Linked DNA regions of Homo sapiens: region 2 is linked to region 1. Evidence: fine-mapped expression QTL. A gene starts in region 1. The other region holds a variant in brackets. All regions are shown on one strand. Distances are from middle to middle.

The links. PIP is the estimated chance that this variant, and not a neighbour inherited with it, causes the effect. A credible set is the group of variants that fine-mapping cannot tell apart.
Region 2: its variant is the best candidate, but not a certain one, in a credible set for the expression of LINC01433 in monocytes after Pam3CSK4 (Quach 2016, PIP 0.88).

The regions. Positions count from the first base shown.
Region 1 is chr20:4,189,590-4,197,915 of GRCh38, forward strand. LINC01433 (long intergenic non-protein coding RNA 1433) reads left to right here and starts at 3,501. Exons shown (of 3, transcript NR_033917.1): 1 at 3,501-3,657; 2 at 5,693-5,789; 3 at 5,937-6,364. RefSeq lists a silencer at 5,647-5,828.
Region 2 is chr20:4,157,283-4,165,608 of GRCh38, forward strand. The region is part of intron 1 of SMOX (spermine oxidase); the gene reads left to right. It overlaps LOC124904861 (a long non-coding RNA gene), which reads right to left. Exons shown (of 2, transcript XR_007067504.1): 2 at 1,281-5,916. Among named protein-coding and RNA genes, the nearest start is that of SMOX, 13 kb to the left of the region's middle. RefSeq lists enhancers at 355-855, 3,482-4,415. The variant T/A (reference allele first, on the strand shown) is at 4,338.

The sequences.
Region 1 (8,326 bases):
CTCACTGCAGCCTCAGACTCCTGGGCTTAAATGATCCTCCTTACTCAGGAGTGGCTGGGACTACAGGCATGTGCCACCATGCCTGGCTAATTTTTATTTTTATTTTTTTGTAGAGAGAGTGTCTCATTATATTGCCCAGGCTGGTAGGTTGTGATGGAGATGTCTAACACACAGACACACGTACACACATGCTTACCTGCATCCACTTACGCACACACACCTACATGCACAAACCTCACAGACATTTTGCTTTGCCAGGGTTGATCTGCCAGAAATCTTCATGGAGCTTATATCAAGGGATTCATACCCACCTGCTGGCATAACTGAAAAATGTCTAAATATATATATGAATTTTTTTTTTTTTTGAGACGGAGTTTCACTCAGTTGCTTAGGCTGGAGTGCAGTGGCATGATCCCGGCTCACTGCAACCTCCACCTCCCAGGCTCAAGCGATTCTCCTGCCTCAGCTTCCCGAGTAGCTGGGATTAAGGCACGAACCACCATGCCCAGCTAATTTTTCTATTTTAAATAGAGTTGGGGTTTTGCTATATTGGCCAGACTGGTCTCAAACTCCTGACCTCAGGTGATCCACCCGCCTCGGACTCCCAAGGTGTTGGGATTACAGGCGTAGCCACTATGCCCAGCCTATATATGAAAAATTGTCTGAATAGATGATCTGTTCATGTAGTTTAAGCCCAAAAGCTGTCCACGTGGATACAATACACTGAAATGTTCCCTCTCACAGTGTCCCCAGTCACTGTTGCCTCTCCCACAGCCCTAGGGGTATCCATTCCTAGATGTAAGTCAATATAAAAACACTCTTCTCCCTCCTTTTTATACAAAAGCACCAAAGTATTCATCTTGTCCTGATTTTGCTTGTTTTAGTTAACAATATGTCCTGTAGGCTGGGCGCGGTGGCTCACACCTGTAGTCCCAGCACCTTGAGAGGCCAAGGCGGGTGGATCACCTGAGGTCAGGAGTTCAAGACAAGCCTGGCCAACATGGTGAAACCCTGTCTCTACTAAAAGTACAAAAAATAAGCCGGGTGTGGTGATGCATACCTGTAATCCCAGCTACTCGGGAGGCTGAGGCAGGAGAATTGCTTGAACCCAGGAGGTGGAGGTTGCAGCGAGCCGAGATCGCGCCATTGAACTCCAGCCTGGGCAACAAGAGTGAAACTCTGTCTCAAAAACAAACAGAAAAACAAATAAAAAATCAAAAAAACCCACAATATGTCTTGGACATCTTTCTGTAATGGTACATAAGCAGACAATGTAAATTTGGACCTTACTTTGGTCAAAGCATGTCTGTCTCCTCCCTGGCCCAGGGTCACTTTATGGAAGCCACCTTCTATTACCTGTTACCTTCCATGACTCATAGTCTGCTGTCTGCTTCTGACTCCTCAGTTGTTGGATTTCCCCATCCACTGCAGTGGGATGGAGACAAGCAGCCCCATCACATAAGTATCGGGGAAGAAAGTGATAAATAGGTTCTCAGTGTATAGGCAGAGGAATTTTAAAGGACTCCATGGTGGGGTGAAAGGTCTGGAAATGTTTACTTGGTGACTGCACTTCAGGGAGCTTCATGGGTGGGTAAGAGGGAGGGAGAGAATATTCACTTAGTGCCAATTGCCTGGCACTATGCCATGTGAATGTGATACTGATTTGACAGTGATGCCAACTCAGGCTTTATTTATTCCTGTGGGCAAGTGAAACCTCAGAGAAGTTAAGTAACTTGCCCAGGGTTGCTCAGAGGTGCCGAGACATGAGCTGAAGTCTGTCTGACTGCGTGGTGTAGGCTCGTTCTATTGTATGATGAAAAGAAGAGGCTGGTGCCACCAAAAAAGCTTAAGGCCATTGCTGGAGAGAGTGGGTGTGGTACGACCACACTGGGGGACTGTGGCGGAGTCAGCTAAAACTGGCCATGTGCTTGCCAGCGTTCCCACCCCTGGGTATACACCCAAGAGAAAGGCGTGCAGGTGCTCACCAAACATATATACCAATGTGTCCACAGTAACATGGACCCTAACAGCTAAAAAACTGGAAGCTGCCCAGATGTCCATCAACAGTAGAATGAATTCCAGTGCACTCACACAATGGAATACTATATAGCAATAAATAAAAGGAATGGATATTTGCAACAACATGGATTAACCTCAAAAATGTTATGTTGGCAGGGTATGATGGCTCATGTACCCCCAGCACTTTGAGAGGCCAAGGCAGGTGGATTGCTTGAGCTCAGGAGTTCAAGACCAGCCTGGGCAACAAGGCGAAACCCCGTCTCCACAAAAAATACAGAAATTAGCTGGGCATGGTGGTGCGTGCCTATAGTCTCAGCTACTGGGGAGGCTGAGGTGGGAGAAATGCTTGAACCCAGAAGGTTGAGTCCGCAGTGAGCTGTGATCATGCCACTGCACTCCAGCCTGAGCAACAGAGCAAGATTCCATCTCAAAACAGCAACAGCAACAACAACAACACAACAAAAACCCTCAAAACATTATGTTGAGTTAAAGAAGCCGGACAAAAGGCTATGTACTATATGATTTCTTTTATGTAACGTTCAAGAACTTGCAAAACTAATCTACTGTGTTGGAAATGAGGGGCTGGGGGTGGCGGCTGGGCAGGAGTGGGATGGGGGCACTTCCTGGGGTAACGGAAGTGTTCCACATCTTGATCTGGGTGGCGGTTGCATGGGCATACACGTTGGTAAAAATGCATCAAGTTATACATGGAAGAAAGTTTCAAGAGTCTGAGAATGCCTCCCTCCATTCTCCCATTCCAAAACATGGTCATATTGGCCCAGCTAATTTCCTCCTTGCAGCAGAGATGACACATCTGAGAGCAGATAAAGGGAGGAGGGGCCCTCTTAGGCCCCACTGGCTGCCTGGTGATAAGCAGTGACCTCAAATTAATATAGGATGTCACTGTTTACCAGCTCCATTGCCTGTATCCCCTTATCCTCTCTGCATCTGCAACCACGAAAGAGGGGTTGGGATTGTTCCACAGCAGAGGAAATGGAGGTTCTCGGAAGGACCTCGGGGAGGCCATGCAAGGCTACTCGGCTTGGAGAGGACATGACCTCGTGGGGAAGGGAGCAACCCGGGGAGGAAGCCGAGGGGGAGCCTTTGGACACACAGGCAGGGACAGGCGCCAGAGGGGGCACCTCCTGCAGTGTGCTGCCTCCACATCAATAATTGCATAATGTGGATACCATTTATGATTGACAGTTCCAAAAACCAAACTCACTCACTACAGATGAGCAAGGAAGAGCAAGAGCCATTCAGAAGTGAGGAGGTATGACGTACAAGGAACACAGGATATGTTTCATGCTGTGATGAAGTTTCACAATAGACTTGGCATAGATTGAAACCCAAAGGGCTCTATCAGAAGTGGCAAATGTGGCACGCTCAGGCCAACACCCATGCCAATGATTCCTATAAAATTCCCATTGCCTGGTAGAAGTTCACAGGAGAGGAAAGTTCTTTCCTGCACCAGGTTCTATGGAGAATTGGTTGCATGGTTTCTCGTGCTGTGGGCATCAGGGACTTCAGGTGAAGGTATTTAGCTGTGGCTTTGTGCAAACCTCAGAACTGTGTCCTCCAAGGGCCTGGGGTATTTGGCAGGCGCTGTCTCTTGCTGCCTTTGCTGCTGTATGACAGGTGAGTAATATGTTATATCCTATTTCTTGGGAGCTGCCTGGAGTGTCTGCCCCTCCTGCAAACAAATGTAGGAGTGAAGCACCTCTAGTTTGAGTCACCTTAACTTACTAGGTCCTGTTGGGGGTGAGCTCAAGGGTAACTCCAAGGTGCAGAGTGAGTTAGGCTGCTGGTTCAGTTCTTGAGAATTGCCTGTCTAATTAGTGGTCTGCCAAACTTAATGGTAGAGTTACAGAAGGCTGTATTCTTTATAATGACTGGCTGGGCTGTTTGTTGAGACTCCTTATTTGTGTAGGACAATCAAGCCATCAACACGCAGGCAGAGTTGTTGCTCTACTAAGGTGGCAGCCAGGACATCTAATCTTGTGTTATGTATTTAATATTAAAAAAGGGGGTCGTTCACTGCCCTGTTTCATACTGTTCAGCTTGAGACTGGTAGGTACAAAAGTCTTCTCACTTCCCATGATTCTAGCGGTGATTGTTTAACACCGATTTTGCCAGAACGTTCAAAGCCTGGATCTCTCTCAGAGAATGCAAAGTGTTAGGCACATTTTATTTCTGCAAACTCTGTGTTTGTGCAATTTCAATGCGTTGGATTGGGTATTCCCTCTCCATTTCACTGTAGTCCCAGCTACTCCCTTTTGTCTTAGATCTGCTACCATCCCACTCCCATACATGGGGCACATGGGGTTACACAGCTGTCTTTCATCCCCAGTTCAAGGTCATGTGGCCACTTTATTATGCCTTGAAGCTCTTTCTTCTCTTCTATGAGCTACTTGGGTGTGCTTTCTGTTACTTGAGCCATTGGTTCCTCCTCTTTTGCTCAAATTAGTTTGGGTTAGGCTTCTGTCACTTCTGATCAGTTCAAACTAATTAAAATTGGTTCCAGGACTGGAGTTTTACATTTGGTCTGTCATTTCACTGGGTCTCTTTCTAATACCCTCAACTCTCTTACCCCCTGTTTTGTTAAAGCCAATTGACACAATTCCAATCAGCATTCAGTCTACAGCTACGGCTGGGCCACCATCAGTTGCTGCTGGAAAAAAACAGAGCCACACCTGCTGGCCGAAGCAAAGCAAATAACAACACTGCCTGCAGAATCTTTCCAGGGACTTAACATATTTAAAGCAGAAATTCTGCTTCTTCCTAAATCTAATCTACCCTTGGTCTTCCACATTTGAGTAAGTGGTACCACCATTTGGCCCAGGGCAAACACCTGGGCCATCATCAACTCCTTTTTCTTTCATATTCCACATCTGATCATCAGATTTGCAATCAGCAAATCTTGTTGGCTCTCCCTACAAAACACATCCTGAGTCTGATGACTTTGAGCCTCCTTCACCGCTCCTCACATCTCTGCTGTGTATGGCTGCAACAGCCTCCTAAGTGGGGTTCCTTTTTCCACGACTGTCCCTTTTAGCCTGTCCTCTACACAGCAGCAGCATGATCCTTTCAAAATATAAATCCAGCCACGCCACTTCCCTGGTTCTTAGTAACAACCATCATGCTAACGATCAAAGGTGATTTCCAACATCCTATGTGATCTGTCTCCCTGGGTCGCACCTCCTCTCCACCCTCTCCTTCCCTTTACCCTGGCTGTCCTCCTTAACTGAAATGCCCCCGTACCCCAGATATTTGCAAGGCTCTTTGCTGCTGCCTTCAGATCTCTACTCAGATGTCACTTCTTTGGGAAGACTTCCTGAGCAAAAGACTTCCTTGAGCACCTTGTTTCCACAGCCTCCCGCACTCTCTGCTCTCTCATCCTGCCTGTTTCTTCATAGTCCTTCTCTTTCCCCGATGTTTTTGGTTTTGATGTTTATGTGTTTATTTATTTTCCCTCAACCCCGAATGTAAGTTCTATGTTCACTTCTGCACGTCCAATGAGTCCAAAATAGTGCCTAGCATAATAGGTTATCAATAAATATTTGCAGAATGAATAAGCAAGGGATTGAAGAAGCCAAGATAAATGGTGGAAATCCGGAGGACACCCCTCTCCACCATCATTTGTCAATAGGCAATTTGGTCTCTTGCTTCATAGACAAAATAGAAGCCACCTGGAGGCAACTTCCTCACCCATCGACAAGCTCACCAGCCTTCATGCCTGTCCTTTGGAGCTTCCCTGCAGACAGTGGCAGGTAAGGCTTCTGCCTCTCCTAGGCTGACCCTCCACCTGTGCTTCCCATGCCTCAAGTGCAGGGACGTCGCCTCGTCCTTTCCGTCCCCTATCATTCTACTTCATCCTTTCTACCCACATTTCACTATGCTCATGTCTTTCCCATCAGCCACCTTCCTCGGGAACCACCTTCCTGGGCCTCTCCTTCAGTCAAGCTGCACAGCAGCATTTTCTACACTTGCTCTGGCGGCATCCTCACTGTCATGCACTAGCGGTTGTTGGTGAGGTTCTTCAGGCTGCAGATGGAGACATGGGAAGGGCTGGACTGGCTCCCCTTCTCACTGTGGCTGGGCAGGGTAGGGGGTACCCCGGCTTCCAGGATCTCTGGAAGCAAGGACAACCTCAAGGGCTGATCCACATCCTCTGGTGCCATCTGCCGCCCAGATGGGGACACAGCCCTCTTGCTGCACCGAGAAAATGTGTGTCCTGGATTCTCCGTGAGCTTTTCTGAATTAAAACAAACAACATAAAATCATGGGAGTGCCTTTAATTACTGTTGAATAAGTGAATAAAATAAGATTATAATATTCTACAGTATCATTTATTTTTCATTCTTAACATTATAAAGAGGGCTTGTTGGCTGGGCGCGGTGGCTCACGCCTGTAATCCCAGCCCTTTGGGAGGCTGAGGCGGGCAGATCACCTGAGGAGTTCGAGGCCAGCCTAACCAAGATGGGGAAACCCTCGTCTCTACTAAAAATACAAAATTAGCCGGGCATGGTGGCGCATGCCTGTAATCCCAGCTACTCGGGAGGCAGAGGCAGGAGAATCACTCGAACCCGGGAGGTGGAGGTTGCAGTGAGCCGAGATTGTGCCATTGCACTCCAGCCTGGGCAAAAAGAGCGAAACTCTGCCTCAAAAAAAAAAAAAAAAAAAAAAAAAAAAAAAAAAAAAAAAAGAGGGCTGGTGGCCCCCGAGATGAGATATTTACTTTTGTTCAATTGTTCATTCTTTTGTTCATCTATCAGACTTTTAATGATTTCCTTTTGTATGCCAGGCTACGTGCTTAAAAAAAGAAAAGCTTCACTATGCTTTAAGACACAAGTTCAGTAAATAAATAAGAAATGTGTGCTTAGTTTGTTCCCTAAGGAAAGCTGGACTTACGGGTTGTATTTGTAATAGTTGTGTGTGTGGATTAAGTAATGTGGGTGTGAGGAATAAGTCACAGGTGTGGATATATCTTATGTGTCCTGTTAAATCTGGCTTCCTAATGGGAACAAAATAAGGTCTTATTTAAAAAATTAGTAAACATATTTATTGGAAGTATAATTGTGTACAATAATACACTGATCACGAGGCTGGGTGTGGTGGTTCATGCCTGTAATCCCAGCACTTTGGGAGGTGGAGGCGAGTGGATCACCTGAGGTCAGGAGTTTGAGAACAGACTGACCCATGGTAAAACCCCATCTCTACTAAATAGAAAAATAATTAGCCAGGCACGGTGGCGCATGCCTGTAATCCCAGCTACTTGGGAGGCTGAGGCAGGAGAATGGATTGAATCCGAGAGGCAGAGGTTGCGGTGAGCCGAGGTTGTGCCATTCCGTGTCAAAAATAAATAATAAATAAATAAAAATACATGGATCACGAGTGTACAGCTTTATAAATTTTGAACCTACCTATGTAACTGGCACCCAGATCAGGAAACAGAAGTATCCCTTTGTTCCTCCTGCCACAGGCCCTCTCCTCCCAAGGGCTACCATTATGTTGACTTCTAATGCTTTAGTTTAACTTGTGCCCATTTTTGTACTTCATGTAAACATGACCCATTTGGTTTCTTTATCTTACCTGGTTTCTTTATTTGGTTTCTTTAGCTTGTGTCTGTGAGGTCCATCCATGTTGTTTCATGTAGCAAGCATTTGTTCACGCTTACTGCTTGATCATATTCCATTGTGTGATATGCCATGATTTGTGTATCGTTTCTCCTGGTGATGGACACTGGAATTGTTTCAAGTTTTTGGCTATTAAAAGCAGTGTAGCTAGCTGAGTGCGGTGGCTCATGCCTGTAATCCCAGCACTTTGGGAGGCTGAGGTGGGCCGATCACGAGGTCAGGAGTTCAAGACCAGCCTGGCCAATATGGTGAAACCCTGTCTCTACTAAAAATACAGAAATTAGCTGGGTGTGGTGGCATGTGCTTGTAGTCCCAGCTACTCAGGAGGCTGAGGCAGAGTAATTGCTTGAACCCTGGAGGCGGAGATCGCAGTAAGCAGAGATCACGCCACTGCACTCCAGTCTGCGCGACAGAGGGAGACTCTGTCTAAAAAAACAAAAAACAAAACAAAACAAAAAACAGTGCAGCTACCAACATTCTAGTATTAGTCTTCTGGTGAATATACGTATATGTGTATATATATGTGCATTTCTTTTTTTTTTTTTCTTTTCTTTTTTGAGATGGAGTCTTGCTCTGTCGCCCAGGCTGGACTGCAGTGGTGCAATCTTGGCTCACTGCAACCTCTGCCTCCCGGGTTCAAGCAATTCTCCTGCCACAGCCTCCCGAGCAGC
Region 2 (8,326 bases), 32 kb before region 1:
ATTTGACATGGCTGGAGGAGGGACCCTGGGGAGGGCCCTGTCATCGTGGACATGAGGGAAGAAAGCAAGAGCCAGCAGAAAGCGGCACAAGGCTTAGGTTGGGGTCCTGGTTAGACCAGAGTAGCCTGCAGAGGAGAAGAAAGAGGGTGTGGGTAGCTAGCAGGACTGGCTTCCTGGAGGAATGGCCAGTTAGGTGGGGAGATCTGGACAGAATGAGAAGTCACAGGTTTGAGTCTGAGAGTCAGAGGATCCTGGTGGGTGTGTGTAGGGGACAAGTGGCCTGCGGGCAGGGAGGAGGCATCAGGGACTACCTTCGTTCACTGGGCTGTGGCAGCCCACAGAAGGTTTTGAGCAGGGCAGTGATGTGATCAGAGCAGTGCATTAGTGAGACATGAGGCAGGGTGTGAGTGATGGTGGGCTGTGGGAGGGGGCGGTGCTGTGCCCCTTCATGGACATGAAGCTGGGGGAGGGGCCAAGTTGCGGACGTGACCCTCATTCTCAGACTCTCAGGGCAGTCAGTGAGGCTACCCTGCCTCGCCTCTGCCACACCTCCTTTCCTCTGTGGTGTGAGGCTCTTTGTTCAGCAGCTCAGGTGGGGGAGATGGGCTGTGGTATTTTTTATTTTTTATTTTTTTTGAGTTGGAGTCTCGCTCTGTCGCCCAGGCTGGAGTGCAGCGGCGCGATCTCGGCTCACTGCAACCTCCGCCTCCCGGGTTCACGCCATTCTCCTGCCTCAGCCTCCCGAGTAGCTGGGACTACAGGCGCCCGCCACCACGCCCGGCTAATTTTTTGTATTTTTAGTAGAGATGGTGTTTCACCTTGTTAGCCAGGATGGTCTCGATCTCCTGACCTCGTGATCCGCCCGCCTTGGCCTCCCAAAGTGCTGGGATGACAGGTGTGAGCCACAGCGCCGGTCGGGGTGTGGTATTTTAAATACCCAGGAGGAGCTACGGTGGTGCGTGGGGCAACATTGGCCCTCCGACCTGACCCGAAGGCCCTGGTGGGGCATGCTCAGTGGATTTTCCTACCCAGCCCTAGCTCCCCTCTCTTGTCCTCCTTTGCCCCTTTGTCTTTCTTCCTCAAGCATGTAGGAGCCCAGTGCTCTCTAAATCTGGGGCTGGGAGGTTGGAGGATGAGGAAAAGCATCTGGATTCAGGTGGAGCATGGTGGCCTAGCTGGGGGCATTGCAGCACCCCTTAGTCCAGATTCCCTTCTTCTCCACCTGCTTCTTGAGGGACGGCATTAAGGAAGGTGTGACTTAAAGTCAGAAGAACAAGAACTTGGAAGTGAGTTGCAATTTATTAGAAAACAGAACAAAGAATCTAGCCACCCCTGCCAACTCTGTGCTAGGCCCTGGCAGACACATGGGTCCTGTCTTCCCCATGCAGCCCCGGGGGCCTGAGTGAGGCATGATGGGTCTCACTCAGTTTCTGGGACATCTGTCTCGATGCCCTTTCGTCAACCCCATGGCTCTCTCAGAGCCTGTCCTCATACCTTCAACTGCTCCCCACCCATAACCAGATCTCCGGGACAGCCCAGCTCAGCCAGCGCACCTCTGATCCTGGCGGGTGGTGGTGATACTCCTTGCAGGCTGAGTTGGCTAGATTTTAGGATGACTCAAGCAGGAGACACCCAGCACCACCAAGGGGCATATATTCTTAGGAAATATTTTTAAATGATGCCTTTAAATGTTAAACACACAGGGACCTTTTACTCTCTCTTATTTTGGAAAATTAAAAAAAAAAAATCATACACAATGCAAAACCTTGAGAGTTAATCTGAAAAGGTTTGGAGTTTAAAAAGTAACTCAAGGAAAGATAATGAACTTGACTTCTTCATTAGATTTTTTTTTGTTTTTGAGACAGAGTTTCACTCTTGGAGTGCAATGGCGCGATCTTGGCTCACTGCAACCTCTGCCCCCTGGGTTCAAGCGATTCTCCTGCCTTAGCCTCCCAAGTAGCTAGGATTACAGGTGCCTGCCACCACGCCCGGCTAATTTTGGTATTTTTAGTGGAGACGGGGTTTCACTATGTTGGCCAGGCTGGTCTCAAACTCCTGACTTCAAGTGATCCGCCCACTTCGACCTCCCAAAGTGCTGAGATTACAGGTGTGAGCCACTGCGCCCAGCTGCTTCTTCATTAGATTTTAAAAAGAGCAAGGCCTGAGGCTTAATATATTACTAAGTAAAATTTAGAGGCAGGCTGATAGCAGGCTGTGGAACCTCTCTGAATCTCAGTTGCCTCCTCTGTACTATGGGGGTATTGATGTGAGGATTGAGGTATTCCACACAAAATGCTTGGCACTGCACTCTGTATCTCAGGTGTATTCAGCTAAAAATAGAGTGATAACAATGATGATAGGATTTTAAGAACAGACCTTTCTTGATGCTTCAAAAGCTAGTGAGTTATTCTCTCTTTGAACTCCACAAAAGGGCCTAAAGAATATGTTTATGTCCAAACTCAGCGTCTCCACTTCATAGGGGTCTTATGGATGAAATCATGGGCGCATGGCCCCTGTGTGCATTCTGAAATGAACCCCAGTGGCTTTTGAGACCTGGTTCCAGCCCTCGCGTGGGTGGGGGACTGTGCTTCATGGTTGAATTCTATGGAAAGTGCTTTATTGGTTAATCCTGTGGTCTTCTTAGGAGAGCACAGTTAATGTACCCTGAAGTCACCAGGAGGGGAAGGTCTCGGGCCAGTGATCGAGGACCGTCTAGAGGCAGTTATGAGTTACTTGCTTTTTGAATTTTCTTTTGTGCTGGCCAATGCAATTAGAACTTGTCCCTGGCCCTATTTATGGAGGAGGAGATCGAGGGTGAAGGACTGAGGCCTGGCTAGTTTAGTGCCTGGCAAGCCTAATCCAGCTGCATGGGGCAGGGAGACCAGGGTGACCTGCAGGGACCCCACTAAGCGCCCAGGCCAGAAAGCAGGTAGCTTCCCGGTGGCAGCCCCAGGCTTTGGCAGTGAAGCTGGAGTGAACCATCAGGCCTTGAGATGACTCCTGCCAGCCCCAAGTGCCTGGCACAGTGTGTGCATATCAGTATGTGGGGAGGAGTAAGATGGGAGAATCGTTGAGCCAGGGCAGTCCTCGGGCCTGCCGCACCCCTGGGGAGGCTGAGTAGGGGGGCCTGAGGTCGGAGCAGGGATTGAGCAGTGTTGCCCTGCCCTGCCCCTCACTCCATCCAGGTGGCGTCTGTCATGCCTCTGAACCTCTTGGGGCCTGTTTCCTCATCTGTAAAATGGGCAGCAGAGAGTTTATGAGTATTAAAGGATGCAGTGAATGGAAAGTGCCCAGCAAAGGGCCTGGCACAGGAGGGGCAAAATAGAGGTTTGCTGTGAGGTTCATCTGGTGACTCGATTTTTCTTTGGATATTTTCCTTTTTTCGTTTTGTGATCATGCATGCCACCTTGGCTCTATGATAAATTACGTTGTGTGGACACCATAAGAGAGGTATTTGTGCTGGAAAAGGGTTTACAGTGGAGGAAGGCCCGTCTCCACCTTCAGGGAGGAAGGCTGCCTGGATCCAGCACGGCTCAGACAGCTCTGACACTGGGGCTGTCGTGTCTCTTTGTGGGCAGAAAGCACAGGTCCCAGGCTGGGCAGAGTGGGACCCTGTGGCTCAGGAGGCAGGATGGGCTTGCCGGAGACCCCACCCCCTCCCCGGGGCTGGAGCTGAAGCACAGTTGGGCTTTGTGCAGAGTCACGAGGGGCCGCTGAGGGGGAACTGCGCCCGGCTGAGCTCACAGGCCTCAGTTCTTGTAAGTGGTTTTGAAAGAGTCAGCGGAAAGTGCTGACTGAGCTGTTCTCCTTCACCCCAGAATTGTGAGGCTGCGGCTCCTGGCAGGGATAGGGGAGAAGCCCCACCGGGAAGCCACCCCCTCAGCTGCCAGCTCACACCTCCCAGGTGTCAAGTGCCCAGGCTGCAGAATGGGTGGATCTCTGTGCTGGGTGGTGCTGGGGACACTGACTCACGTCAGGGCCGTGCCTGCAGGTGATGCCTCATGCAGGGGGCTGTGTTTGGGGGTGTGCCTGGCCCTGTGATGGCAGGCGGCTTGGAGAAGCTCTCCCAACCCTGCTGATAGCCCGGAGGAGAGAACTGGGCTTAATAATCAGACCCCTGGGCTGACCTCCCCTCTGCAGTCCTGCACTGAGGTATTTGGCTTCTGTCATTTTTCTGACCCCATCAGCTTGTTGTGAAGGGCAAAGATGATGACCAGTTGACACAGTTAGAACTGGTCTGGGTTTGTCCCAGCGGTGTCATGCCTGGTCACCCAGGTCATGCTGATGTGGCCCTTGCCCTCACCCCACATCCTGCCATTCAGCAAGTCCCCAGGAGG[T/A]TGACACAGCACTGCACCTCCTCTGCCGCAGAGTTGCCTTGGCAGGAGGCCTTCCCTGACGCCCCTGTGCAAGCAGTTAGTTTCCTGTCTCCCCGCCCTGCTTTTCCCTGACCTGACAGATCCTTAAGGGGAGGCGTCTGGGTGTTGCAGTATCCCCAGTGCCTCGGACAGTGCCTGGCACAGGTAGCCCTCCAGAAACCTTTTTGAATGAACGAAAAATCTGTCCCCTGCTACTCCCGTCCCTGCCTTAGGGCTCACTCACAAACCCTGTCTGTGCTTTTCTCCAGTCTCCTTAGCACTGGTCCCACCCTAGGCCGGGAACGTGCCCCCCGCCTGCCCGGTGCCCATCCAGACTCCCACTCACGGCGGCAGCCACCGGGTGGCAGGGCCTGTGTGTCTCCAGCGCCTGTGCCTGCCCCGCCCCCTTCCTGGTGCCTTGGGCGGCAGGTCGTGTGCCTCCTGGCAGGTGTGCCTCCTGCCCTTCCCCAGGGTGCCTCGGGGAGCCAACCTGCATGGCTGACTTGCCCAGGAAGCGCAGGGCGGCCCGGGTGGGGCTGGGGCAGGCCCTGAGCGGAGGCGGGAGGTGTGTTCTCCCCACCTGACGCTGGAAGGCTTCCCCACTCCCCACTCCCGACTCCCAACTCCCAGGGCGGGGTGAGGCGGCTGCCACAGTCATGGGAGGAAGCTCAGGAGAGTGCATAGTGTGGGACCAGGGGATTCCAAGCCAGTCCAGGTGAGTTCCCGGAGAGAGAGAAAAGGGACAGTGTTGGAATCACACGTTGAGAGATGATACTGTTAGCAGTGCCTCTGAGCCTCTGCACGTGCAGTTTCCCTGCGTGGAGCTCACTTCTCTCTCCTGGGAATTTCCACCCCCTCTTCCACCCTCCATTAGGTCTTCCTTCCCATTGTCTCTTGAATTCTTCATGATCCTTATTTCTGTACCTTTGAGTTCACTGGCTGTGAGCCTCAGGGCAGGGGGCCCTGTCTCTTGAATCCATTGCTGCGGAATCTCCAGGGGCTGATGCAGGGCCAGGCAAGGGTGCATCTTGGGGGAGACAAAACATACAAATATAGGTCTCTCTAAGGACTTCTGATGAGGAGGCTTGGACCCAGCAGAGAGCAGAACAGATGTGATGGTCATTCCCATTTTGCGGATGAGGAAACGGTCTTTCCAAGATCACTCAGAGCTAGACCCCATTCCTGCTTCCTGGCTCCTGTCCTCCAAGGGAGCAGTCCCAGCGCAGAGGTTGGACCTGCAGAGGGTGTTGAGATGCAGAGAGAAAGACGGGGAGGATGCGGCTGTGTGTGTCGGTGTGTGAGCAAGGTTGGGCAAGGACATCTGTGTGGCCTGAGGTGCTTTGTATGCCTGGAGAGCAGAGGGCTTTGGGAGCTGGGCAGCAGCGGGGTGGAGGGAGACCCAAGCCTAAGCCCAGGGTGGAGGGAGCTTGGGCACTGCCTGGCCTTGTGGCTGTCTCTGCCTCTTCCTCTCCGGCACTGTCAGACCTCAGTGGCTGTGGGCTGGCCAGGAGGCTGCAACTGGAACCTGAGCCTTGGCTGTACATTGGCATCATGTAGGTCCCTAAAAAAAAAAAAAAATACATGGTTGGGCCCCACCCCAGAGAGTCTAATTTAGATGACCTGGTATAGGTAGGGGTTATTTGTAAAAATCTCCAGGTGAGTCTAATGTACTGGTTGGGAGAAGTTCCTGTCTCTTGGGCCTTATAAGCTGTAGGGCCTGGGCCAGGCTCCCTGCCCACTTCATCCTAGCTCTGCATTTCAGAACAGCGGGGTCTGAGGCCCTGAGAGGGGTTGGTTGGGGGAGTGTTTACCTGGGGACTTCCACTCTGGGGAGTCTCTGGGGAGAGAGAGATGCTGACTCTTAGTTACCTATTGTTGGCTAACCAATGACTCCAAAACTGGTAGCTTAAAATGGCAGTCAGCATTTATTATGCTCACAGTTTCTGTAGGTTGGGAATTTGGTAGCAGTTTAGTTGGGTGGTTCTGGCTCGGGGTCTCTAGTGAGGTTGCAGTCACAGTGTCAGCCAGCGCTGCAGTCATCTGAAGGGAGCAGGAGGATTTGCTTCCAAGATGGTGTGCTCACATGCTTGGCAGGATGGTTTGGCTGTTGATGGGAGGGCTCAGTTCCGTGCCCTGTGGGCTGCCCCAGGGTTGCTTGAGTGTCCTCCCCACATGGTGACTGGCTTCTCCCAGAGTAAGCTGCCCAAGGGAGCAAGGTGGAAGCCACAGTGTCTTTTATGTCTACTTTCAGAAGTAACATTCCATCATTTCTGCAATATCCTGTTAGCTGCAATGGTCAGCTTGGGAGAGAACTACACCAAGGCACGAATCCCAGGAGGTAGGGATCATTGAGGGGCATCTTAGAGGCTGGTGGCCACATAAATTGTCCTGTTGTTGCACCTGCAGCTTCACAACCCTAGCCTGGGAGCTCCAAGCACCCCTACCAAGTAGGATAGTGGGGTGACCCTTCTATCCTGATCCCCTGTTCTTCCCATTGTCATTCCATAACAGTGTCTCTGTGGGGTAGGGTGGCTCTCTCTGAGGCCTGGGGCCCTGCTCTGGAATCATTCTGCAGGGGGATCTGTGATCTGTCTACTGGCTGGGCTTCCTTCATCCCCACCCCTGCCTGTCACCCGGCCCGATCTTCCCTGCAGTGACTACCACTAGTGTGCAGACTGGGGCCTGTAGGAAAACATAAGGACTATTGCTGCTACACATCTGGCTCTGGGATAAGCCATCTGCATGCGTTGTCACACACCTCTGTGGGGCAGGCACACTTTATCCCCATTTTACTGATGAGGAAACTGAGGCTTAGATCACTCATCTAATAAGTGGTGGGGATTCAAATGACTGGTATTCAAAGCCAGCGTCAGACCCCAGGACCTGTGTGAAAGCTGTGGTACTATAAGGTGTTCCCAAAGGATAGGACTATTTATTAAGTTGGGTCGTCAAATGAAACATAAGGAAATATGCTTTCATGATTTGTGTGTGTGTGTGTGTAAGAGAAGTGTCTCTTCCTGGGGTTCGCCGAAGGCTGTGGTGACTTGGGTGCCTCAAAACAGGGCTGATACCTTGGTGTTGAAGCTAGTATTCCCTCTCTGGGTTTCGGCTGTGTCAGGAGACTTTTTTTCTAAGGAAGCGGGCAGCTGTGAGCACCATCGCCTGTTGGCCCTCCCCTGCCAGTGGCCTGGTCTGCTGTTACCAAGGGCAGTCTTGCACCAACGTATTCACCAGGGCAGTGACCGGCTCTGTGGTGTTTTTTTCTTTAGAGACAAGGTCGCCCATAGTGGAGTACAGTGGCATGATCATGGCTCATTGCAGCCTTACACACCTGGGCTCAGGTGATCCTCCCACCTTAGCCTTTGGAGTAGCTGGGACTCCAGTTGTGCATCACCATGCCTTAGCTAAGTTGTTTTTTTTTTTTTTTTTTTTTTTGAGACAGAGTCTCGCTCTGTTGTCCAGGCTAGAGTGCAGTGGGGTGATCTTGGCTCACTGCAACCTCCGCCTCCGAGGTTCAAGTGATTCTCCTGCCTCAGCCTCCTAAGTAGCTGGGATTAACAGGCACGTGCCACCACACCTGGCTAATTTTTGTATTTTTAGTAGAGACGGGTTTTCACCATGTTGGCCAGGCTGGTCTCGAACTCCTGACCTCATGATCCGCCCGCCTTGGCCTCCCAAAGTGCTGGGATTACAGGCCTGAGCCACCGCACCCGGCCCTAGCTAACTTTTACATTTTTATTTTTGGAGAGATAGGGTCTTGCTATGTTGCCCAGGCTGGTCTCAACCTCCTGACCTCAAGCAATCCTCCCACGTCAGCTTCCTAAAGCACTGGAATTACAGGCATGAGCCACTGTTCTGGGCCTGGTCTTTCTTACACCTTTGTGGTTGATGACTTCCTGGAGGGGAATTCAGAGTTGGGATGTTAGGTCCTGCTCACAGGGAGGGAATCCAGACCATGGGGTCTTATCCTA